Regions from separate parts of the Homo sapiens genome. Here regions 1 and 2 are each linked to region 3. The links come from fine-mapping of genetic effects on plasma protein levels. A gene starts in region 3. Each other region holds a variant in brackets. All regions are shown on one strand. Distances are between the middles of the regions. Region 1 overlaps CPM (carboxypeptidase M). Region 2 overlaps CPM (carboxypeptidase M). Region 3 holds the start of CPM (carboxypeptidase M).

Evidence for each region. PIP is the chance, under the fine-mapping model, that this variant and not a neighbour inherited with it causes the effect. The UK Biobank Pharma Proteomics Project read protein levels with antibody pairs (Olink). The fine-mapping took linkage between variants from a reference panel, not from the people measured, so its PIPs are less certain.
Region 1: its variant is fine-mapped to the plasma level of the CPM protein (UK Biobank, PIP above 0.99).
Region 2: its variant is fine-mapped to the plasma level of the CPM protein (UK Biobank, PIP above 0.99). The variant lies in the coding sequence of CPM. If it changes the protein, the assay may bind it differently, which can mimic a change of level.

What each region holds. Positions count from the first base shown.
Region 1 is chr12:68,891,956-68,900,138 of GRCh38, reverse strand. All of the region lies in intron 2 of CPM (carboxypeptidase M), which reads left to right. Among named protein-coding and RNA genes, the nearest start is that of CPM, 37 kb to the left of the region's middle. The variant C/AC (reference allele first, on the strand shown) is at 3,746.
Region 2 is chr12:68,867,092-68,875,274 of GRCh38, reverse strand. It overlaps CPM (carboxypeptidase M), which reads left to right. Exons shown (of 9, transcript NM_198320.5): 4 at 3,319-3,491; 5 at 4,876-5,060; 6 at 5,780-5,950. Among named protein-coding and RNA genes, the nearest start is that of CPM, 62 kb to the left of the region's middle. The variant A/G (reference allele first, on the strand shown) is at 4,884.
Region 3 is chr12:68,929,766-68,937,948 of GRCh38, reverse strand. It overlaps CPM (carboxypeptidase M), which reads left to right and starts at 4,778. Exons shown (of 9, transcript NM_198320.5): 1 at 4,778-4,807; 2 at 5,109-5,271. The coding sequence starts at 5,112. RefSeq lists silencers at 4,399-4,508, 4,539-4,898.

The DNA.
Region 1 (8,183 bases), 38 kb after region 3:
CTCTTTCATCAGACATGTCTTTTGCAAACATTTTCTCCAAGTCTGTGGCTTACCTTTTCATTCTCTTGATCCCTCCAGCTTTTTATTTAGAAAATTTTCAGTCCTATAGAAAAAAATACAAAAATAGTAAAATAAGCACTCACACATTATTCATATACATCCACCAGTTGTTAATATTTTGCCACATTTGCTTTATCTCTCTCATGAGCTCCATCTGTTGATTTTACTGAACCATTAGAAGTGATAAATGGCATGTCACATCATCCCAAAAAACACCAATATGCATCTCCTAAGCATGACTTCTTACTGCCTAATCATGACACATCATTATTAAACTAAAAATAATAACTCAGTAATATCCAACAACATACTGCATTTTTAAAGTTCTCCAGTAGTTCCCAGAATCAAATCAAGCAAGGCTCACCCATCGTCTACAGTCTCACAATCTAGGACAGTTCCCCTGCCTTTTTTTGGCATTGACCGATTCATATTGAACCAATTTTATGTCATTGGTTGATTCCTAATGAACCATTTCCTTGTCTACAAGCTCTTGGCTTGCCCTCTTACAGTGATGAGTTGGAGTCTCTCCATGACAGCACCAGACTGGAAATTCTTAACATGCTTTCCAGGCTCATTAACATTGAGATAGTCAAAATCTACACGATGTCCTCAATAATTTTGAGAACAGGCCATGAAAGAAAATGTTGTGAAAAATGTGTTTATGGTTAATGATTCAACACAGTTAACAGAGGTGACTTGGCTTTCTGCCCTGCCCTCATGGCAACATGCGGCTTCCCAGTTCAGCACTGTCCTCTGCTGTTAGGGCCTGGGAATTCTGAATGAGATTCAGTCCTTGGAGTTGAAAAAGTAATTTACCTGATGCTTGGTGGTGTGAATGTTTGTGACAGTTTTTGTGCTAATACATTTTGAAGGACATGTTCTCTCAAAATAGCCCCTTCCACTTTCTGAATCCACACTCCAGTTTTCTTTTTAACTTCAGTGAGTGGTAGTCTATTTGACCTGATGTGCAGATCTTCTGGCACATACATTTCTGCTGTCTCTTGGCATAACAAATTGGCAGTCTATCCCTATGTTATGTACACTGTTTATATTGAAAATTTGTCTTTAATTGGTCTGATACTACATCATCTGCTAGGGCCAGTAGTTTGTCATCAGCCAATTTGTACACCTGAGGCCCTCAAACAAACACGTGCTTACAATGTTTCTGGCACTATTTTTAAAGCTTGTAAGAATTAAATGAGATAGCACAACAACCCCATGAGGGTAAGTACCGTTAATCCCATAATATGGATGAGGAAACTGATTCATTTAGAGGGATTAAGCAATTTGCCCAATACCACATGGCTAGTAAGTGACAGAGCTGGGTTTTAGCTCTGACACTTTGATTCTGGAACCTGCACATTTCATCATTATGTCAGATGCCCTGAAGAGGATACTGTATATCATCTCATCTCACATGCTGTGTTCAGGCAGGTGACGTGCTGCTCAATGCTGGTTTTGATGTCTTTACTAAACTACTGATCTATTTTTGAGATTTAAATCTCAAAACAGTGATACTAGTGAGAAGTAGTCCACCTTTGTTAATCCACCAAATGTTCCGGTTAGGGAACCTAATTTTGGTAACTTCAAGGCCTCTCCTGCTATTGGGAGCTAAGCATCCTTCACTCTGGACTCTCACTTGCTTCACTTTAGAATGAGAGCTTTTTAGGGTAAAACTCAGGAAGTAGGATGACTGAAAGAAAAGCCTTTCTTCTCCACAGTAGCTTATGGGGAAACTAGTAAATTAATTGCCATTATTCCTTGCCACTAAAGGATGAGTTCTTATGGTAGCAATAAATAGACAATAGGGCTGTGCAGACCTCCAACAAACTGTCTTTTCTGGGGTCAAAAGGGGTCTGAATTAACCTCTTCTTAAATTACAGCTCTGTGACACCTGCAGGCACTCATAACAAATAAGAACACCAGGCCAGGCACAGTGGCTCATGCCCGTAATCCTAACATCTTGGGAGGCTGAGGTGGGTGGATTGCTTGAGCTCAGGATTTCAAGACCAGCCTAGACAGCATGGCAAAACCCCATCTCTACAAAAAAAAAAAAAAAATACACAAATTAGCCAGGCGTAGTGGTCCATGCTTGTAGTCCCAGATACTCAGGAGGCTGAGGTGGCTGACTTGAGCCCTGGGAGGTCAAGGCTATAGTGAGCCATGATTGCACCACTGCATTCCTGCCTGGCTGACGGAGTGAGACCAATAGGGCAGCAAGAAACAAAACCTCAACACTGAACCGGAATGTCCATGACATACTGTAAAAAAAGAAACCTCAAATGGACAATAACTGTATAGTGCTAGTTGTAATGATTGTGCCTTTTTTTTTTTTTTTTTTTGAAACGGAGTCTCGCTCTGTCACCCAGACTGGAGTGCAATGGCACGATCTCCACTCACTGCAACCTCTGCTTCCCGGGTTCAAGCGATTCTCCTGCCCAAGCCTCCTGAGTAGCTGGGATTACAGGCACACACCACCACGCCCGGCTAATTTTTTGTAACTTTAGTAGAGACGAGGTTTCCCCATATTGGCCAGGCTGCTCTGGAACTCCTGACCTTGTGATCTGCCCACCTTGGCCAAGAAATCTCTTTAAGTATTCATTTGTACTTTAAGGTAATGCTCGATCTCGCTCTTAGTACAGCTGAATTGTCCTTCAAAAAGATGATCTGGTTATGTTTGACCTCTTCCTCAAGGGACCAAAAAGGGAAGTTCTCAGCTTTTTATAGTATGAGGTCCCTAGAGGTTTTCACTTTGGGGATTTAAAAACAAGTTTCCTGTAGCTATATGGAGGAAAAAAAAAAAAAAACCTAAAGGGGAACATGGAAGAATTATAATGATTGGGGCATGATAATTATGTCCAGTTTTTAAAACTCCATTCTTAAAAATGTCTTATAATTTATAGGTTAAAAATTTAAATGTTTAGAGGAAGCAGGACAGGTTTATGAGTCTCTGACCTGGGAATGGAGTGGGAGGAATAGAGAAGGTGGGGTTGCAAGAGGAGAAAGGCAGAGGAATTTCCTACCGTCTTCCTGTTTTTTGTTGATGGTTAGTGATTAATGAGACAAGCTGTTCTGTTTCTCTGGGAGTCTTGACTGTCTTGAAGAAAAAAAAGAAAATTTATTGCAACCCAATGCAGCTTCAGATTTTTCCTCTATTTTTTTTTTTCAATTAAAAACGTAACTGTCCCTAATTTAGGAACTGAAATTCCCAAACCTCCCCATTCACCTATTCAGGAAGAAATGAAATGGAACCTAACATCTACATTTCTTGGGTATAATATCAAAACTTTAATACTATGGGGATGAACATGTAAGCAAATGCAACTCTATCTCCCCATAATGTTGGAAGAATCTAACTTGAAACCAGACATTTGGTTTGGATCTTGGCACTTTCTTGCATGGAAATATTCCAAGAAGGTGCATTGACTCTTGATTTGATCTAGAAAACTGGGTTCTTTCCAGAGCCCACCCAGGATGGCACCTCATAGACTAACTATGGACTTTTCCATCAATACTGGAAAACAGTTTCATCTAATCCCCGGACCAAAGGTGACTCGGACTCCAAGTGAGCTTCCTCAGGTTTGTTTGTTAATTTATCCAATCATCCATTCACTCAGCAAACATTTATCAATCATTTGCTATGTATATGCCAGACACTACACCAGATTTTGCAAGCACAGAGATA[C/AC]AAAATCCCTTGCTTGCAGGAAAACCTTTGGTTTCAATAAATGATAGGAGAGGGGTTGCAGGGGTACTATCTATGAAAGTTCAAAGGAAGCATCTAACTTAGGGTGGTAGGGGATGGGGCTGAGCAGAAGGATCAGGAAGGTGTTGGATGGCAGGAGGCTTTTAGCTGAGCCTTGAAAAGGCAAGGGGAGGTTGGCCGCTTTGATGGGGTGGGCTAAGGACTATCCATGCAGAAGAAAGAGCAGGTATTAAAGGTGTCAAGGCAGGGAGTTACCTCCTTTGGGAACTACACATAAAGAAGAATGGCTAGGGCCTGGTGTATGGGATTGGGGTGGGAAACCCAAGGCAGGAAGAAGACAGATCCCAAGAGGTCTGGTGTGCATGCTGAGGGGATCAGGTGCCATCTCAATGCCATGGGGAGTCATTGAAGGAAAAGCAGTTAGAGCCATGGGATCCAGTTCACATATGATCAATCACCCAAACAAAGGAAAGTTTACTCAACAACATGTTTTCATTTGGACTTCATTTTGTCAAAGCATGAAAGTGATGTCAGAAATAGAAATGAGTGTATTCATGGCACACCACCACACCCAGCTAATTTTTGTACTTTTTGCAGAGAACTCCTGACCTCAAATGATCCACCTGCCTCGGCCTCCCAAAGTGCTGGGATTACAGGCGTGAGCCACTGTGTCTGGCCTAAAACACATTTTCTAAGATTTCTTTACTTCTGGGCCACCTCCACAAAATTTTATGGTTCTGGGAACCCCTATCTGAAAAAGCACAGGTATCAGCAATAAGTATAATGAACACTCACTAGAGGGAAAGTCATTTTGGTTTGGGTTGGTTATGGAAGCAGTGTCATATGAAAAGGGCTGGACTGTACTGCAGAAATAGAAGACCCACAAATTGCTATGGCTTATAACAGAAAAATAAAGATTTAGATGTCACTCATATGTCCATTATTGAACAGTTGTGACTCTGCTCCCTGTCACCTTCCCTCCAGGACCGAAGCTGACAGAGCACCCTCTATCCAATCATTGCCTGTCTTATGTCAGAGGGAAAGGAGATGGCAAATCATGCATCAGCCCTTAAAGCTCTGCCCAGAAGTGGTACATTACCATTTCTGCCCACATTTCACTGGCCAGAGCAGGTCACATGATATGCCTGAGTTCATTAGGGCACCAGATGTTGGGCAACCAATAATACAACCCACCACTGAGGTCTTTACTAAGAAGATGACCTGGGCCTTAGGGAATGGCCATGATTTACCTGGTAGACACAGCAGGGGAGCAAAAGGAAAATATGACAATATTTTTATGAAATCAAGACTTGGCCACATGAAACTTTTTTTTTTTTTTTTTTTTTTGAGACTGAGTCTCGCTCTGTCACCCAGGCTGGAGTGCAGCGGTGCGATCTCGGCTTACTGCAACCTCCACTTCCCAGGTTCAAGTGATTCTCATGCCTCAGCCTCCCAAGTAGCTGGGATTACACGCACCACCATGCCCAGCTAATTTTTGTATTTTTAGTGGTGACAGTTTCACTGTGTTAGCCAGGCTGGTCTCAAACTCCTGACCACAAGTGATCTGCCCTCCTCAGTCTTCCAAAGTGCTGGGATTACAGGCATGAGCCACCACACCTGGCCGTGACACCCTTAGAAAACTAACTTCAAGGCAGAATGCTTCACAGTGACAAATCTTAGGATGCCACTTTATAGAAATATTCTGAAGAGAGAAAAACCCAGGTGAGTCAGAGCAGCCTGGGGAAACTTCTTAGAACCAGGATTTTGTGGAATTCAGAGGATTTTAAAAGGCAGAAAATCCAATGAAGCCATTTTAAGCTAAAACAATGTAAATAAGGTGGGGCTGTGCCTAGGGTACTAGGGTGCAGAAAGGAACCTGCCTCCTGTGGGCGCATTTGTGTTAGCAGGTAGTGGGAAATTCGGGTGGAGGGCAGGTGATGGAGGACCCTGAACACCGAGGGAAGACTCTGGATGTTATGTGCCAATATTTATCAAGAAAACGCAGTCCTGGAGATACACCAATAATTTTTGAAATGTTACAGTAGATACTAATTGAAACCTACAGTGCGCCAGGCACCGTTAGGTTAGCAGTGAACAAAACCAGCAACCTAAACAAAATGGTGAACACACCAGGCAGTGCCCTTGTGGGTTACATTTTGGTGAGACAGATAGTATATAGATAAACAAATATACAATCTCAAAGAGTGAAAAAGTTGTGAAGAAAGATGACACAGGATTAGAGAGTGACTAGGGTGTATATGGTGGCAGTGGTGGTGGTGGTGCAGCCAAGGGGTGGGGTGGAGGACAAGACAGCTGTGAAGACTGGTGAGCATGAGGTAGTCCCTGGTAACAACCAGCGCTCCACACCCTACCCTCAGAGTGCCATTGCAGGGTTAGCATACTCCACTGAGTAAAGCTTCCTTGTCCAGGCAATCAGTTAGAAGAGCCAGGAATGCTGGGCCCAAAGAGGTTGGCCAGAGAGAAAAGTGCAGGGGACATGGTTCCCAGATCCACGCAGAACCCCTGGGGACCACTGAGTTCCACAACCTCAACAAGGCCCAGGGTTATACTAACACAGCAGGTGGCCTCATTTTAGACCCCACACCAGAATCTGTGCAACGGGAAATTCCAGTGCAGCAGAAGTTGGAGTCAAATGCCTGCCTATTTCTCATTCCATTTTGGGAAGCCTAAACAGGGAAGCCTTCTGTGTTCCTCTCATTCCCATATTAAACTGAACTGCAAAACTCATGGCTCTAAGTAGACTTTAGAATTGACCTAGGCAGAAGAAATAGCCCAGCCCCTTCATTACTTCAGAGCAGAATAGAGCACTTACTCTTATCACAGCAGCACAAGACCCCTGGGACACCTGACTCCCTGAGACCCTTCCTTGACAGGTTCCCCTGTCCATAAACAAAGTCAGGAATTCCCAGCCCACTACACAGAATATGACAGTTAAGCTTCATTGGGATCCTGTGGCTGACCTGGGGCAGGCTAGAGGGCATCACATCTGTACAGGCTCTCAGCTTTGCGAGTTCAGAAACAGACTGGGTGTTCATGTGGACTGGCCCAAACCTGAAACTCTACAGAAATCGCAGTGCATGCCAGGTGGTTTGCCATGAAAAAAGGTGTGTGTCCCAGAGACAGGGTGTGTATGGTACAAATGGATTTTGTCCACGTCTTTCCTTCCCTTGCCAGTCCAGCCACCCTACTGTCTTTTTTTTTTTTTGTCAGTTTTTGTTTTTTTTTAATTTAAGTTCTGGGATACGTGTGCAGAGCATGCAGGTTCGTTACATAGGTATACATGTGCCATGGTGGTTTGCTGCACCTTATCAACCTGTCATCTAGGTTTTAAGCCCTGCATGCATTAGGTATTTGTCCTAATGCTCTCCCTCCCCTTGCCCCCAACCCTCCAACAGGCCCAGGTGTGTGATGTTCCCCTCCCTGTGTCCATGTGTTCTCATTGTTGAACTCCCACTTATGAGTGAGAACGTGCTTACCCTACTTTCTTTTCGGTTTGTTTTTTTGTTTGTTTTGAGACGAGTTTTGCTTTTGTTGCCCAGGCTGAAGTGCAATGGTGCAACCTCCGCCTCCTGGGTTCAAGGGATTCTTCAGCCTCAGCCTCCCGAATAGCTGGGATTACAGGCATGTACCACCACGCCCAGCTAATTTTGTATTTTTAGTAGAGACAGGGTTTCGCGATGTTAGGCAGGCTGGTCTCAAACTCCCAACCTCAGGTGATCCGCCTGCCTTGGCCTCCCAAAGTGCTGGGATTACAGGTGTGAGCCACCACGCCCGGCCTACCTACCCTACTTTCTTAGCCTATTTGCTGACTAGCATTCAAACTGAGTGCAGGGAGAACACCTAGCAGCCTGATCCCAGAAGTGCAGCTACTCCACATTCCACAGCTCTGGGGCAGAGTGACTAAGGCTCACCTGTAGTCCTTAAATGGAGAGCAATTTGGGATGTACCAGCTAATCAAATAAAACCAAGGCAGCAAACAATAGCCATCACTTCTCAAACCATCCTCATTGTGCCCCTCGACTCCCTCCTTCCATTTCCAGTTCTCCCCAGAGGGGAGACAGACAATAACCTCAACAACAGAAGCCAGTACACAGCAAGCTTGCTTCACACGTTCACGTTTCTTTTGTTTTTCTTTGATGTTTTTTCTTTGATGTTTTCCATTTTCCATCTCTGAGGTGATTAGCAGTACAGCATAGTGGTTAAGAACAGAGCAGGGACTCCACGGATAGACTACCCAGTCTTGTCCTTTGTTACAGTGGTTCTTAAGCTTTCAGGTGACTGGGAATCACCTGGAGAGCTTATTAAAACGTAGATTTCCAGCCGCGTGAAGTGGCTCACGCCTGTAATCCCAGCACTTTGGGAGGCCAAGGTGGGCAGATCACTTGAGGTCAGGAGTTCG
Region 2 (8,183 bases), 63 kb after region 3:
GGTTCAAGCGATTCTCCTGCCTCAGCCTCCCGAGTAGCTGGGACTACAGGTGCCCACCACCATGCCCGGCTAATTTTTGTATTTTTAGTAGAGACGAGGTTTTACCATGTTGCCCAGGCTGGTCTCCAACTCCTGACCTCAGGTGATCTGCCCACCTCAGCCTCCCAAAGTGCTTGGATTACAGGCATGAGCCACCGTGCCCGGCCTCAACTTTTATATTTTGTTCTATACCCATACTACCAAGACTGCTTAATCTAATTCTGTATCTAACAGAATACCAACTCAACCTAGCCTCCTAATCATGGTTTCTTTACTCTTCCTTTTCACTTTCTTTCGGTTGGGTGAATTTCATTGCCAACTCGTGTCGTGATTGTTTGCATGCTGGAGAGTGTATGATTCAGATAGCTAAGAGACAAATTCACATTTAGAGTCACATGGGGATTCTGATATCACTTCCTCTCTGTTCTTGACTTGGGACTCAGATAGGCCAGGGATTTTTGCCGATTGAACCATACTATGGCCTCTAACCAGCATTTAGACATTTAAGGAACTATGGGACTCCTGGTCACTTCCTCCTCACCTTCCTGTACCTATTCCTCCCCAAACCCTTCTGAGAAAGCTTCTTAAACCAACGATCTTTTTCACATTTTTTTGGTTTTTTTTCGAGATGGTGTGTCTCACTCTGTCACCCAAGCTGGTGGCGCGATCTCGGCTCATTGCAACCTCCGCCTCCTAGGTTCAAGCGATTCTTGTGCCTGAGCCTCCTGAGTAGTGGGGATTACAGTCACCTGCCACCATGCCCAGCTAATTTTTGTATTTTTAGTAGAGATGGGGTTTCACCATGTTGGCCAGGCTGGTCTCAAACTCCTGACTTCGGGTGATCCACCCACCTCGGCCTCCCAAAGTGCTGGGATTACAGGCTTAAGCCTCCACGCCCAGCCCCTTTTCACATTTAAAGTTACTGTCACAGTTTTATGTTACCAGCTCCTCCCCACTGGCTTTAGGGGAGGTCATAAGTAGCTCATCAAGGTTACTTCCAAAGGTGCTGGACCTTCAAAAACCTATTATATCTTAAAATTGGAACCCAGTGGGGTGTACAAGTGACTTTTTTGGTTATTAGCTTGTAAGGACTTTTTCCAGTGACAATTTTGACTATAAAAACAAAAATCTGGCCGGGCGCGGTGGCTCACACAGTAATCCCGGCACTTTGGGAGGCTGAGGCAGGCAGATCACCTGAGGTCAGGAGTTCGAGACCAGCCTGGCCAACATGGTGAAACCCTGTCTCTACTAAAAATATCAAAATTAGCCAGACATGCTGGTGGGCACCTGTAATCTCAGCTACTTGGGAGGGTGAGGCAGGAGAATTGCTTGAATCCAGGAGACGGAGGTTGTAGTGAGCCAACATGGTGCCACTGCACTCTAGCCTGGGTGACAGAGTGAGACTCTGTCTCAAAAAAAAAGGTAGTGGAAGAGGAAGATAAAAAATGAGTAGGAAAAAAAGTTGAAGTCAGGATTGGACATAATCTGACTCTAAATTTTATGGTTGCCTATGAATCTATAATTCATATATCCCAAATTTTCTTTCTTTCTTTTTTTTTTTTTTTTTTGAGACAGGGTCTCACTCTGTCACCCATGCTGGAATGCAGTGGTGCGATCTCTTCTCACTGCTGCCTCAACCTCCTGGGCAGCACAAGCGATCCTCCTACCTCAGCCTCCTGAGTAGTTGGGGCCATAGGTCTGTGTCACCATGCCTGGCTAATTTCTTATTTTATGTAGTGATGGGATCTCGCTATATTGCCCAGGCTGGTCTCAAACTCCTGGGCTCCGCCTTAGCCTCCCAAAGTGCTGAGATTACAGGCATGAGCCACTGCCACCAGCCCCAAATTTTCTTAGTCCCAATTTCAATTATTCTGTGTTCATTAGGATAACAAATGTTTAAAATGTGGTCTCTTTATGTGCCAGTGAGGGAATCAAGTGAGAAGTGGTCATCCAAGGACCGCTTATCCTTTGTCACAATGTTGAAGTCCTACAGTGAAATCATGACTGGAAATTCTTCTGAGGCTCCATGAAATCTTTTCTTGCACAGTGTCTACATGAATGTGCCTGCAGCACTCTCCTGATTTTCTCACCTGCTGCCCCTGAGTTCTCATTTACTAACCCCTCAACAACATCTGTTCTTCTGAAGCAGATTCCTTGAACCTAAAATGATAGGGAGAATTTGATGTAGTCTAAGCAGATCTTCCTATGATAAGGCTGACATTTAAATTACTTTTTTTAAATAAGAAAAATAATGACTCTCTCTCCTGGGGAGGGATTATAAAGCAAGTTCTCTCACAGGCCTTCAGTTTCCCAAGCCTTATTGATACTGCAAGCTAATTTAGGTGGATATGACAGCTTTTAACATTTTAATAGTCATGCTTTTACTTAATATATATTAGAAATATATATCTAGAAAAGTGATAATGATATGAAGTTTCTCAGGAGTTGGAAGCCAGCCTTAGCAACATAGCAAGACCCTGTCTTAAAAAAAAAAAAATCTACAATGTGATGATTTTAAGTCTGTTATCCACCAATACATACATGATAAGCTTCATATGCACCATGCATTCTCATGGAAATACGTGATTCCTGTGCTTCTCTGTAACTCAACCTCTTGCTCTCCCACTCCAGAAGATACTTTGGAAGGCAACCAAATGAAAAATGTTGTAAGAATCATTATTGCGGCCGGGCGCAGTGTCTCATGCCTGTAATCCCAGCACTTTGGGTGTCTGAGGCAGGTGGATCACTTGAGGTTAGGAGTTCAAGACCAGCCTGGCCAACATAGTGAAACCCCATCTCTACTAAAAATACAAGAATTAGCTGGGCGTGGTGGCACACGCCTGTAATCCCAGCTACTCAGGAAGCTGAGGCAAGAGAATCGCTTGAACCCAGGAGGCGGAGGTTGCAATGAGCCAAGATCGCGCCAATGCACTCCAGCCTGGGTGACGGAGTTGAGACTGTCTCAAAAAAAAAAAAAAAAAAAGGAAGCAGCAGCAGCAGCAGCATTATTCCACTCTAATTCATTTTTGCAATATGTAAACTATTTACAAATAGGTACTTTCACTCTTACTAGCATTTTTCAGCATACCTCAGGACTGATCGCCACCTGATGGCCACTTGGCAGAGCATAAGCATGCTTGAGAAAGAGTGATCTTACAAACTAGTTTGGGTCTGAGATATCATGTGTAGAGACCCCTATTGGGGAATTTGTACCGTAGGGAGTGCTTTCCTTATTGCCTCTGACCTAATAATGTCCTCTTTTCTCTTTAACACATATAGACTGTTGGGCGGGAGCTGCTGCTCCATCTGATTGACTATCTCGTAACCAGTGATGGCAAAGACCCTGAAATCACAAATCTGATCAATAGTACCCGGATACACATCATGCCTTCCATGAACCCAGATGGATTTGAAGCCGTCAAAAAGCCTGACTGTTATTACAGCATCGGAAGGTAAAGAGGGGCTGGTCTATCTTTACTTGAAAACAACACAACACAAAGGCTCCCGACAGGCACCTGTTGGCCTTGGCAAGAGGAGATGTGTCATGGTGAGAGCCCTCAGAGCCGGTGTCATGTCGCTGATGTGCCAAAGCTCAAGGCACATCAGGGCTGCCTCCGGCTTGCAGGAAGAAATGCAAATAAGGCTACTTTGCCCCGGTGCCCACCTAGCCTCTCCATCTTCATTTGCCACTCCTTCTCTCTCCCCTGCCTCCTCCCCTCTAGGCCTCCTTCCTGGAAGTACCAGGTGCTTTCTTACCTCAGCATTTTACACACACCGTTTCCCTGCCTAAATAGCATTTCCTCCAAGACTCTTTCTCTCGACCTGTCATACACTAGATCCCCTGATAAACTCTCACATCACCTGGCACTTTACTGTCAGAGCACAACTTTTAATATCTAATTTCTTGCTTCATGTCTCTCCCCCCACTACACTGCAAGCTACCTGCAGGCAGGAATCCTGTCCATTGTGTTTGTCGTTGTTAGATCCGCAGTGCCTGGCAGAGCACCCAGGCCCTTGGTAATGACCGGTTGATTTATTAGGCCAGTAGTCCAAGAACTAACCATAAGCAAGAACGGGTCTTGAAGGAGCTCTGATTTAAACAGTTTATTTTGTTTCAAGCTGCCTTGGGAGGTTTGGAATTTCTCAGATGTCTAATATACATTCATATGTATGCAATTTACATATATGTGTTTGCTTTACCAAAGCTGAACAAAATCTCACCACTTGATTCCCTCCAATTTTAAGTTTTTCAAATATATTTAAACATGGCTGTTCCACGTTTCACAAGTACTTCTGTGTAATGTGTTTAGTGTTGTTTCTGTTATCAGTTGCTACTTAACGAACCACCCCAAAATTAGCGACTTAAAGCAACAGCCTTTTTATTTACTGTTGATTCCATAGGTCAGGAATTTGGGCAGGGCAGAGCAGGGATGGCTACTGTCCGTGCCACAGGTCTGGGGCTCAGCTCTGGTCTTTCTGAGACAATTTACCTGGAGCCATGGACTCTCCGTGGACTCTCCACGTGGCGACCATTGGGATCTCAAGGTCCCAAAAGGGAGCATCTAAGAGCAGAAGTCCCAAATACAAACACTTATCAAACCTCTGCCTGCATCACAATAGCTAGTATCTCATTGGTGAGAGCAGATCACGAGGCAGGGGATGCCATGGGATGTAAGTGCCAGGTGTGGGTCATGGCAGGCCACAAGGGCAGCCATCCACCACACCCATACTCACGTTTGGAAAGACACCTGGAGCCTAAACCAAAGGGCAAGACACTGTAAGAATCCACTCCCTCATGCCCTATCAATAAGCCCTAAAATATTCTTTCTTTTAAAGGGAAAATT[A/G]TAACCAGTATGACTTGAATCGAAATTTCCCCGATGCTTTTGAATATAATAATGTCTCAAGGCAGCCTGAAACTGTGGCAGTCATGAAGTGGCTGAAAACAGAGACGTTTGTCCTCTCTGCAAACCTCCATGGTGGTGCCCTCGTGGCCAGTTACCCATTTGATAATGGTGTTCAAGGTAAGCAGGTGCGGGTCCAGTTCTGGCTTCTTAAGTCCAGAGTGGGGCTGAAAACTCTCTGCCTCTGGATGGGGATCAGCTCTCCCTTCCCCTCTTAACTTCTCTGGCAGGGTGAAAAGAGCTTCATGTTCCCAACTCTAGCCATCCTTCCTGTGATTCTTCAACAGCAGATGGGCAGTGTGGCTGAACTGACAACCCACAGCTGGACATGCATCAGTGAATTAGTGAAATTTAGATTCTAGAAAATACAATCTAAATAGTCAGATTTTGATTCTCTGACAAGAGACAACATGGCTAAAATAACATAAAACTGGAACAACTCACTTTTTTTTTTGCTAATCATATATGAACAATAATTGTTGACTCTTCTTAAAACTCTGTGGGATGAGGACCCAAAATATTACAGTAGCTTTATTCACCCCTATAATACCTAAAGAAATTGTCCTTACCTCCAGAAATTAGCAAGAGTGACTGAGAGGACACTTAATTTTTAAGCTGATTTAGGAGTTTGGATTTGTATCTGACTTATTTGGGGGCTATCACCTTGCATATGTTTATTATAAAGTAGAAAGAAGAATAGAGGAGGTGGATGAAGGATTTCTCTCTAGGGAAATTAGAGCATGTGTGTGTGATGCGATTATGTCTTTGCTAATATGGTGTTTGTGTTTCCTCTTACTCTCAAGTCAGTTTAAAGGTCTTGGTTCATCTTTTAAATGCAGCAACTGGGGCATTATACTCCCGAAGCTTAACGCCTGATGATGATGTTTTTCAATATCTTGCACATACCTATGCTTCAAGAAATCCCAACATGAAGAAAGGAGACGAGTGTAAAAACAAAATGAACTTTCCTAATGGTGTTACAAATGGATACTCTTGGTATCCACTCCAAGGTGAGTTTCTCTTCATTTCTTCCATTCTCCTTATTGCCTTCACCCAGAAGTGCCAGCTGGTTTATTTTGATCCAGCAGTTGTTAAAAGAACTTTAGGCACAATAGGCCCTTCACTCTGTCCTTATCAGCTAATATCATAAGAGCAGTGGAGATGACTGATTGTTTGAGAGATGCTCAGACATGTTCCTCATTACCAAGGGCCTTCTTCATTCATTCAGGTACTTATTCTGTGTCTGCCTACTGTGAGCCAGGAACTGAAAGATGAACAAGACACACACCTCACCCTGGAGTTGAATAGGGGAGACAGACACGCAGATAAGTAATTGTGATAGCAGTGCAATTAGAATAAAAACAGATTTAGAGAAGGTGCAGTGTACCCCAAGGGTGCACAGAGCCAAAATACAATAGGGAGTAGTGAAGAGCTTGGAGAAATGTGATGCTTACATCCCATCTAACAGGGACAGCTGCTACTAGATCTAGCTAATTATTGTCATGCAGCCTTGGGGAGCCAATACTGCCAGATCTTGCAGTTTGTAAAGAGAAGCTGAATTTGTACATGAAGTATCATGATTTTAAAGCCATTTTGCGGGCTCAACAAAAGAGCTCTTCAGACAGGATACAGTGGGAGGAGGGCCCCCAGTTCTCCAATCTTGGAATAAGACAGCCGGGTAAGGGACAGGATGAGATTGTCATGTAGGCAACATGGAAGGAGAGATATTCTTATTAGAGGGAATAATATAAACAGAAACCCGGGGTAGGAGGGACCTAGGGTGGAAGGACAGGAGGAGAGACGGACTGGAACTGGATTTCCATGCCTCAGGGGAAAACATTCCCTTTTAGACTCGTTAGCCTGACCCCACCAACAGCAAGTTGCGGCATGCATTTCTGCGTGCAGGCCACTTCCAAAGGTGCCTTCCCTAATTGTCACTTTGGATGCACAGGCTTTCAGGTAATCTTTCACAAGCTGGTATTTTTATGCCTGGGTGGCTCTCTGTCAGTTTTCCTGGTAATATAAATAAGCATAGACCACAACTGATAGGCAACAGGTCCAGGCAGCATTCCAAACCTCTCTCTGGTGTCCAAGATACAGCCCCCTCTCCTACCTTAGGGCTTCTGCATCGTCCCTGCTCTCCACAATTTGTAGCTAAGAAAGGGCCCATCCTGTCCAGTGGCAGAGCTGTCCTTCATGTTCACTGTCTAACTTTCGAAGGCAAATCCAGATGTGTAGGAAATTAGCTAGAAACGGTTGCTGCTGGGAATTGTTCCCCAGTGTGCCTGTGTGTGAGCTGTGTATCCTTCTCAGACAAAAAACAGGTGAAGCCAGCTGCCTTGAGGAGCCCAGAAGAATGTGCCTGGCCTGGCCTGGATGTTTTGTTGGCCAGGCCTGACCCGCCTTATCCAGAACTGCCCCCTCCACGCTTGGCATTCTCAGTTCTGGCTATCTGCTAGGGATCCATAATGCCTGCCTGTTTTGCTATTTAAAACAAACCCTTTGAAAGTAAGGGACCAGAGGAGAGAACTGGAAAGTCAGCATGAGCAGTGGCAGCCTGGGCTCCACAGGGGGCCGGGCCGTTCACCTCTGAGAGGCAGTGCAGCACTCTTTCTTTGATCCCCAGGAGCACTCTGGCATATTGGGGAAGCCCACAGGTGCTGGCGGAAGGTGGCCTGCACTCCAGTGTCTGTCATTTACTGGCCAAAACCCCTGAGCACTTTTCTTTAACATCTGTGATCATGTTTCCTCATCTGTAAAGTAGGGGCAATTGCTGTGAGGATTAAATGAGCTGATACAAAGCACTTCATATGGTACCTGGCAATAGTGAATGTTGGCCCATGATTCCCCCAAATTAGCATGCTTAGCTTTGCTTAGTAAGTGTATTTATAAATGATTTGTAGAAATATTTTAAAGGAATCTTATTCTAGCTTATATCCATGTAAAATGTAATTTAAGAAAGAAATGAAATTCAAAGAATCATTTTTGTAATGTAGGATTTCAAAAAATAAAAACAAAAAAGGACCCTTCCTTCACCCGTCACTTAATTTTGATGCACAGTTGAACTTCAGTCAGCTCTGATCCAGTTACCCATATGGGAATATTTAGGATTGTCTAGTCACGCCTGGGTAATAGAATGTCAAGCCCTGATTTTACAAGCTAATATGTCAAATTCATTTTTTCCTGTTTACATGTAGCTGTCTGATTCATTTGTCCCCGAGGCACGTGATACTTGGCTCCACT
Region 3 (8,183 bases):
AATTCACTCTAAGATATTTTGATCCTGTTTTCATTCAGAATTAGTCATTGGTCCTCTCTAACACTTTTGTGCTTTTTCCTCTGCTTTGCTTTTAAATTAAAATGCCTTCATTGTTTTTCCAATTTAAAAAAGCAATGCATGTTTGGTGGAAAAACTTTTCAGAAAATACAGAAAGATGTAAAAAAGAAAATTAAAACATTGCAACTCGTGGATTTGCACTCAGCATGTTGGTAACCTTAGAAACACATTGCTGGGAATAGTTTTTTTTTGTTTGCTTTATCTAAATGAGATCTTACTATTTATTTTACTTTTATTATCTGCTTCTTGCCTGAACAATTTGTCTTTCCAAGTGAATAAATGCAGATCTACATTGACATTATTATGGCTGAAAAACAATTAATTGTACAGCTATAATATTCTTTAACCCAGGGTGTCTTAACTTCAGCACTATTGACATTTTGGGCTGAATAATTCTTTGTTGTGGGAGGCTGTGTTGTGCACTGAAGGATATTTAATGCCTCCCTGCCCTCTGTATCAGCACTAGATGCCAGTAGCTCCCATCCCTAGTTATGACAATCAAAAATGTCTCAAGATATTGCCAAATGTCTGCTGTGGGCACTACTGCCTCAAGTTGAGAACCACTGATCTAACCAATCTGCTGTTGTTTGACATTTAGGTTTTATCTACTTTGTCACAATTTAAAGCAGCAGCACTTATGAAGCTCCTAACATATACAAACTCAACACATCTTCAAATTACTTCTATAGCATAAATTTCTAGCAAGGAATGGCACATACAAAATTTTGATGTCTATTCCCAGATTTCCCTCCAGAAAGATTGTATTAATTTAGAACACCATTGAAACAGCATAAATGTCATTTCCTGAGATCCTGTCTACTTCCAGGTATTGTCAATCTTTTTAATCTTGCTTTGTGATAAGCAAAACAAAGTATTACTTTACCCTTTTAACTTGTAATTCTTTGATTGCTTACCAGGTTGGTAACCTTTACTATATTTATTAGCTATTTGTGTTACTGCTTTTATGAACTGCTTATTCATCTCCTTTGCTCATTCTTTATTTTGTAAGAGCATTAATTCCTTCTTCCAGCTTGTAATTTTTCTCATAACCTGATTTAAACCTTTCTTCTTATAACCTTTATAAGGTTTTCTGTACAGAAGTCATACATTTGTATGTTTTCAAATTATTAGCCTTTTTATTATGGTTTTACCTTTAATGGTGCCATACTTAGAAAGATCACCTCTAGGTCCAGGCCTGGTGGCTCACACCTGTAATCCCAGCACTCTGGGAGGCTGAGGCAGGCAGATAATTTGAGGCCAGGAGTTCGAGACCATCCTGGCCAACGTGGTGAAACCCCGTCTCTACTAAAAATACAAAAATTAGCCAGGCGTGGTGGTGGGCACCTGTAATCCCAGCTACTCAGGAGGCTGAGGAAGGAGAATTGCTTGAACCCGGGAGGTGGAGGTTGCAGTGAGCTAAAATTGTGCCACTGCACTCCAGCCTGGGCAACAGAGCAAGACTCTATCTCAAAAAAAAAGAAGAAAGAAAGAAGATCACCTCTAAAATCTCTAAACTTCAGTATTTTACTCTATTAGGCTAACCTTTTATTTTGCTGTTATCTTTCATACTCTTAACACTAAATTTTTTTTTCTCTCTTGACCAGTGCACCTTAAACTTGAATGTACATATACATCATCTGGAAATCTTATTAAAATGTGTGTTCTGATTCAGTAGGTTTGGAGTGGAGTGACAGATTCTACATTTCCAACAAGCTCCCAGGTGATGCCAGTGCTGTCCCTGGCCTGCACTCTGAGTTACTAGCTCCTAAACCTTCAGCACTCAGTCCTCTGTACCCCCTACCTCCATTCTCTGACTCCTTCCTGAAGTTGCCTCCCTTCCTACCTAGTGTGAACCCCAATGGCAGCAATTTCAACTATAGCTCATCTCTGTTTTTCCAGAACAACAATCCTGGCAATCTCCATTCCAGTATTGATGAAGCCACCATTTCTTCCAGTCTCCAGCCACAGCACCCTGCAGGAAATCAGATAGTGTCCACGTACTTCTCTTAAAAAGATAGGATTTCTAAGGTACATCAGCAAGCCTTCACTTTGTTCCCACCCAGTTCCCTTTCCCATTCCTAGAGTAACTTTGCCTAAATTTAATCTTCTCAAGCTCCAGTCCCCCTCCTCAGACCTCTTAGTCAATGAACAACAATGAAAGGGAAACGTCTTCAACCCTTCCAGTGGAAATAACATTTAGCATAGTGACTACTGCACAATTAAAAAAAAAAAAACCTACTCAAAGACTCTACAATGTCATACTAAGACTTCCAACTCTTAGGCCAGGCAAGGTGGCTCACTCATGTAATCCCAGCACTTTGGGAGGCTGAGGCAGAAGGATCACTTGAGGCCAGGAGTTCAAGACTAGCCTGGCCAACATGGTGAAACCTGGTCTCTATTAAAAATGCAGAAGTTAGGCATGTGTGGTGTAAAAATACAAAAGTTACGTAGGTGTGGCGATGCGTGCCTGTAATCCCAGGTACGTTAGAGGCTGAAACACAAGAATCGCTTGAACCTGGAAGGCAGAGGCTGCAGTGAGCTGAGATTGCACCACTGCACTCAAGCCTGGGCAACAGAGTGAGACTGTATCTCAAAACAAACAAACAAACAAACAAACAAACAAACAATAAAACAACTTCTCTTTAAGAAAAAAAAAAAGATGGCCAGGCACGGTGGCTCACGCCTGTAATCCCAGCGATCTGGGAGGCCGAGGCAGGCAGATCGCCCGAGGTCGGGAGTTCCAGACCAGCCTGGCCAACATGGTGAAACCCCGTCTCTACTAAAAATACAAAAATTAGCCGGGCCTGGTGGCAGGTGCCTGTAATCCGAGCTACTCGGTAGGCTGAGGCAGGAGAATTGCTTGAACCTGAGAGGAGGTTGCAGTGAGCCGAGATCATGCCATTGCACTCCAGACTGGGCAACAGAATTGAGACTCCATCTCAAAAAATAAAGAAAGAAATAAAAAATTAAAAAAAAAATTCCAACTCTTGGAAAATTCCCTTTAAAGAGTTACGAATTAAGCTGGTTTATTTATGTAATAAACGCTTCGCACAGTTCTTACAATGTGCCTGCCAACCTTATTTAGGTAGGTACAATTAAGACTTCCACTTTACACACCAGAAAATAAGGCACAGAGTCGACACAGCCACTGAGTGTCAGAGCAAGAATTGGCACTCATCCCGTGAGCGCCTCAGTTCTTTTTTTTTCTTTATATATACTTTAAGTTCTAGGGCACATGTGCACAACTGTGGCACATATACACCACGGAATACTATGCAGCCATAAAAAAGGATGAGTTCATGTCCTTTGTACGGACATGGATGAAGCTGGAAACCATCATTCTCAGCAAACTATCGCAAGGGCAGAGCGCCTCAGTTCTTAAACCACTCTTCTATGCTGCGGCAGAATCACTGGAAGTCTCAGGGAGTCCTGAGTGCGCAATTCTAGGAAAAGTATCTATATCTGTAAGAAAGAAGGGGCAGGGAATCTAACGGTTCTCAGCTCTTGAAGGCACATTAGATTCATTCAAGGTCCTCTCTAAAAATACACTTTCTTGGGCCTCCACGAGAAAAATTCTATTCAATTAGTCGTGGGCTTGCATCCGTATTTTTAGTCTGTAAAAGTGGAATGTTATCTCAAATCAGTGGTTTTCAAACTTTTTATATTCTGCGGACCTTGACACGGGCCCCCAATACCCTGACACGGTTACTTACAATCCGGGAGAGAGTGGGAGAAAGGGGGAGAGAGGGAAGGGGAGAGGGGGAGGGGAGAGAGAGAGAATGAATGAGAATGAATCTTTTAGAGAGGTAGAGGGGGTTGGCCCGTGCCACAAACCACCTCTCAGGTTTGAGTGAAGCCTTCGTTCTCTCTCGTGCAGAGACCATGCCATCCTTCCAGAAAGGAGCATTTTAGGACGTTTTAGGACGAGAGACCTGTAATTGGCCTAAGACTCAGGTGCAGGTGGAGGAAGCATCGGATTTACAACAGTGGTCCTGCCTTCTTCGATGTGACTTCCAGTTTTAAATTCAATTCTAATTTACACAAATCCCACCCACTATGTAAACTTGTTGGAAAATGTCCTGCACTCTGCACTTCGTGGCATTTAAAACTTCCACACACGCGCGCGTTCTTTCTCGAAGCCCCGTGATTGCTTAGCCTCGCTGGGCAGCTTGGCACTGCTGGGAGCTTGGCTCGCCCTGCCGGGGCCGACGCCGCCCGTCCCGCAGGAGCCCGCGCGGGGCTCAGGGCACTCAGGACTCCGCATGCGTCCCGGCTCCAGGTGGGCCCCGGCACCGCCAACCGCAGGAAACCCGCCGAGCCCTAAACGTCTCCCAAGCGGCTGCAGTCTGCGACAGAGAGTGTCCCTCGGTGGAGCGCCCTGTGGCTGCCCAGGCTACAGCCGTGGCCGAGGCGAGGACACACTTCTGACCTGGGGCTCCAGCAAAGACTGTCCGCGAGCGGCGACTCCATGCCCGCAGCCCTCCGCCCAGCTCAGCCGCCCGGCCGCGGGCACCAGCAGCCGCGCCACGAAAGGGCGCACCGCGCGGGCGCCGTCTCTCCTAGGTGCGAAGGCGGCTGAGGCCCCGCCCGGGAGGCACCCGCGCGGCTCCGGAGTGGGCCGGAGGGACGTCCGGGGGCGGGGCCCGGGCGCGCCCGCCCTCTGACCGGGCTATAACACCCGGCCCCGCCGGGCGGCCGCGGGTGGGTAGAGGTGCGCGCCTGGGACCTGGTGAGGCTGGGGGTGCGCGGGGCCGGGCGCAGCTGTGGCAGCTGCCGGACGGCGGAGGCGCCAGGAGGAGGAGGAGAGGGAGGCGCGGGCGGCTGGGTCGAGGGCACCGAGGCTGCCCGTGCTCCCGGTCTCTGGTTGCACGGCTCACTCCCGAAGGTGTTGCTTCCAGCTTTTGCCTCCTTAGGAGGCAGGGAGCGTCAGTGTCGGGAGACCCTGAGACCGGAGTACCGAGACGTAGCTGGTGATGCCCCCGCCTGCCCTCATGTGTTCTCAGGTTCTTCTTATTTTTATTCATCTCTAGAACATGGACTTCCCGTGCCTCTGGCTAGGGCTGTTGCTGCCTTTGGTAGCTGCGCTGGATTTCAACTACCACCGCCAGGAAGGGATGGAAGCGTTTTTGAAGACTGTTGCCCAAAACTACAGTTCTGTCACTCACTTACACAGTATTGGGAAATCTGTGAAAGGTAGGGTCCGTCTCGTGAACACTTTGCCAAACCCTCAGTCCTCCCTTTCAGTATTCATTAAATATGCCCCAGCTTCCTGTCTGCTCTTCCACGCACCTACTCTGAGTGGCACAGAACAAGTCAACCGGTACCGTGCGTGTTGGTTGTTTTCTGCTTTTGTTGGGAGGAATAGTAGGAAGAACTGAATTTTACTGGACTTGTCCATTGTAATTCAGTGTCACTGAGTCCTTTCCATTATTGGAGTTCTTCTGTCTTTTTGGATCTTGCAGACATTGGTTATTTGGGATGTATGTTTTAGTTCCTTTTCAAGATAAACTCCCAAGTAAGTCCGTTTATCCGTTTCAGTTCCCCTTTGTGTGGGCTTCTTTATATATGACTTGGACTGTTAATGTCATTTCTTCATGTCTCTTTTAAACTGAAATAATGCAGTTTTGTTGGTAAGATTTCTGTGTCATCTGTAGTTAGCCTTTTATTTAAAGTTATGCAAAACTATCATTTCTGCAAGTTTCTTTTAATCTAAGTAGTACAGTTCTGTTGGTTAGATTTGTGTCGTGTATAATTAGCCCTATGGCTTAAAGTTATGCAAAAAAGTGGTTCTATGATTAAAGGCTGTTTTTAAAATGTATCCATTTGAAGAAGACAATGCTAGATAATGAATATATATTAGTAGTGATTGAAACTCTTCCCAGCATTTTCATATTTATCATTAATAATTTATTGTTCTAAGTTAGAAACTACATAAAGTTATTTTCATTTTTATAGACAGCAAGTTTGAATCAGATAAATTAAATAATTTGTTCAAGGTCTCCCAGATGGTGAATTTTATAGCCAGGACTGGCACCCATCCGGCCAAGGCAAATAATTTGATCAGATATCGTTATTTCATCTTTCTTTCTTTCTTTCTTTCTTTCTTTTTTTTTTTTTTTTTTTTTTGGTCAGAGTCTCGCTCTGTTGCCCAGGCTGGAGTGCAGTGGCGTGATCTCGGCTCACTGCAACCTCCGGCTTCCTGAGTTCAAGCAATTCTCCTGCCTCAGTCTCCCGAGTAGCTGGGATTACAGGAATGCGCCACCACAGCTGGCTAATTTTTTTGTATTTTTAGTAGAGATGGGGTTTCACCATATTGGCCAGGCTGGTCTCAAACTCCTGACCTTGTGATCCTCCTGCTTCGGCCTCCCAAAGTGCTAGGATTACAGGTATGAGCCACCGTGCCCGGCCGAGATACCATTATTACTTAATCATCTTTTATTATCCTGATGTTCCCAAAGAGGTTACCAGAAAACTTAGTCCTTAAATCAAAAGTTTCATAAATTTTATGCAATTTGGATCTCAACTTTTTGTAAGGTGTGTTCAAACTCTACCTTGATTTTAGCTCTGAACTTTTGAGTCAATTGAGAGTCTCATAATTACCATATTCTTCATCATTTTTCAAAAAAATCAAGGCTATGGCTTCTATATTAAAGAAAAAGTATTATATAAATGTATTTATGTGCAATGCGAAGTCAATATCCTGGGCTGTGTGTAATAGTAACTTTGTTTTTAAACAGCATTGCCAAAGAGATGGTGCCAGAATTACTCTATATTGCTCTATAATCCAAAATTATAGAGGTTGGGTGTGTGAGAAATCATATCTTGAATCAGCATACGTATTCAGCCTTCTGAAATCATTTTTCCCTAGGGCTAGAGTAGAGCAATTTAAAAAGATCTAGGAATACTAATTATATTAATTAAAAATATATAGAACACAACTAGCTTGAGTTATTGTTCAGTCATCATTTCAACCACAAGATGATGAGGATGTTGTTAATTTTAAGTACTAAGTGATTTGGTAAGGTTTTGTATTTTCAAACACAATGTGCTTGTGACAGTTGGGGGCTCTCTTTCCTAATATGAATCAGCAGTTGTGATCTATCCTGCATGATATCAAACCACAATCACAGTGAAAGTCAGCAGGCTTAATTTTGTTTTTAATTTTACCTTGTATGCACTCTTGCGGTTAAAGGCTTGAGGAGTTATCATGTAAAAATAAAATCTGACACTAGTGGTTAAATATTTGTGTTGAATATGTTGTTCTGAATAATAACTCGGATTAAGAAAAATCCCAAATCTGCCATTTGGCTCCAACTGGTAGATGAAACTGTATGCCAGTAACTGGGAGTCAGTTGCCAAAGTGTCACTGCACATTAGTGTGACAATTGAGAGATGGTGCTCCTTTGTTGGTGGTCTTTTTCACTAGATATTTTCCCTAACCATTCTGCCCTCTGATGTAAGATAAGTTTGCTTAGAAAACAGAATTTATGACCAGGCCCAGTGACTCATGCCTGTAATCCCAGCACCTTGGGAGGCCGAGGCGGGAGGATCACCTGAGGTCAGGAATTTGAGACCAGCCTGGCCAACATGGTGAAACGTTGTCTCTACTAAAAATACAAAAAATTAACCAGACATGGTGGTGTGCACCTGTGGTTCCCGCTACTAGAGAGGCTGAGACCGGAGAATAGCGTGAACCCAGGAGGCAGAGGTTGCAGTGGGCCAAGATCATGCCACTGCACTCCAGCCTGGGTGACAAGAGTGAAACTCTATCTCAAAATAAAAGAAAATAAACAGAATTTATTATACACGTGTTATTTATTTATTTATTTATATTACATGTATTAACGTGGGCAGTCTTACCCAGAAGGGAAAGTAATATTCCTAAGTAACTAAATACATGTTTAGTTTTTGTAAAAACTTAAATATATGTGCTATGCCTATGTAAATATATGCATATCACATATTTTCTTTGTTGTAATTGTGGATTATATTCTGCTTGTTTTTTCATTTCATGTTATTTCCTTAGATATTTCCATGAATTGACAAAGTCGGTAGATGTGAATTCGTTGCTGTTTAGTATTCTATCCTCTTGATTATGTGAATTT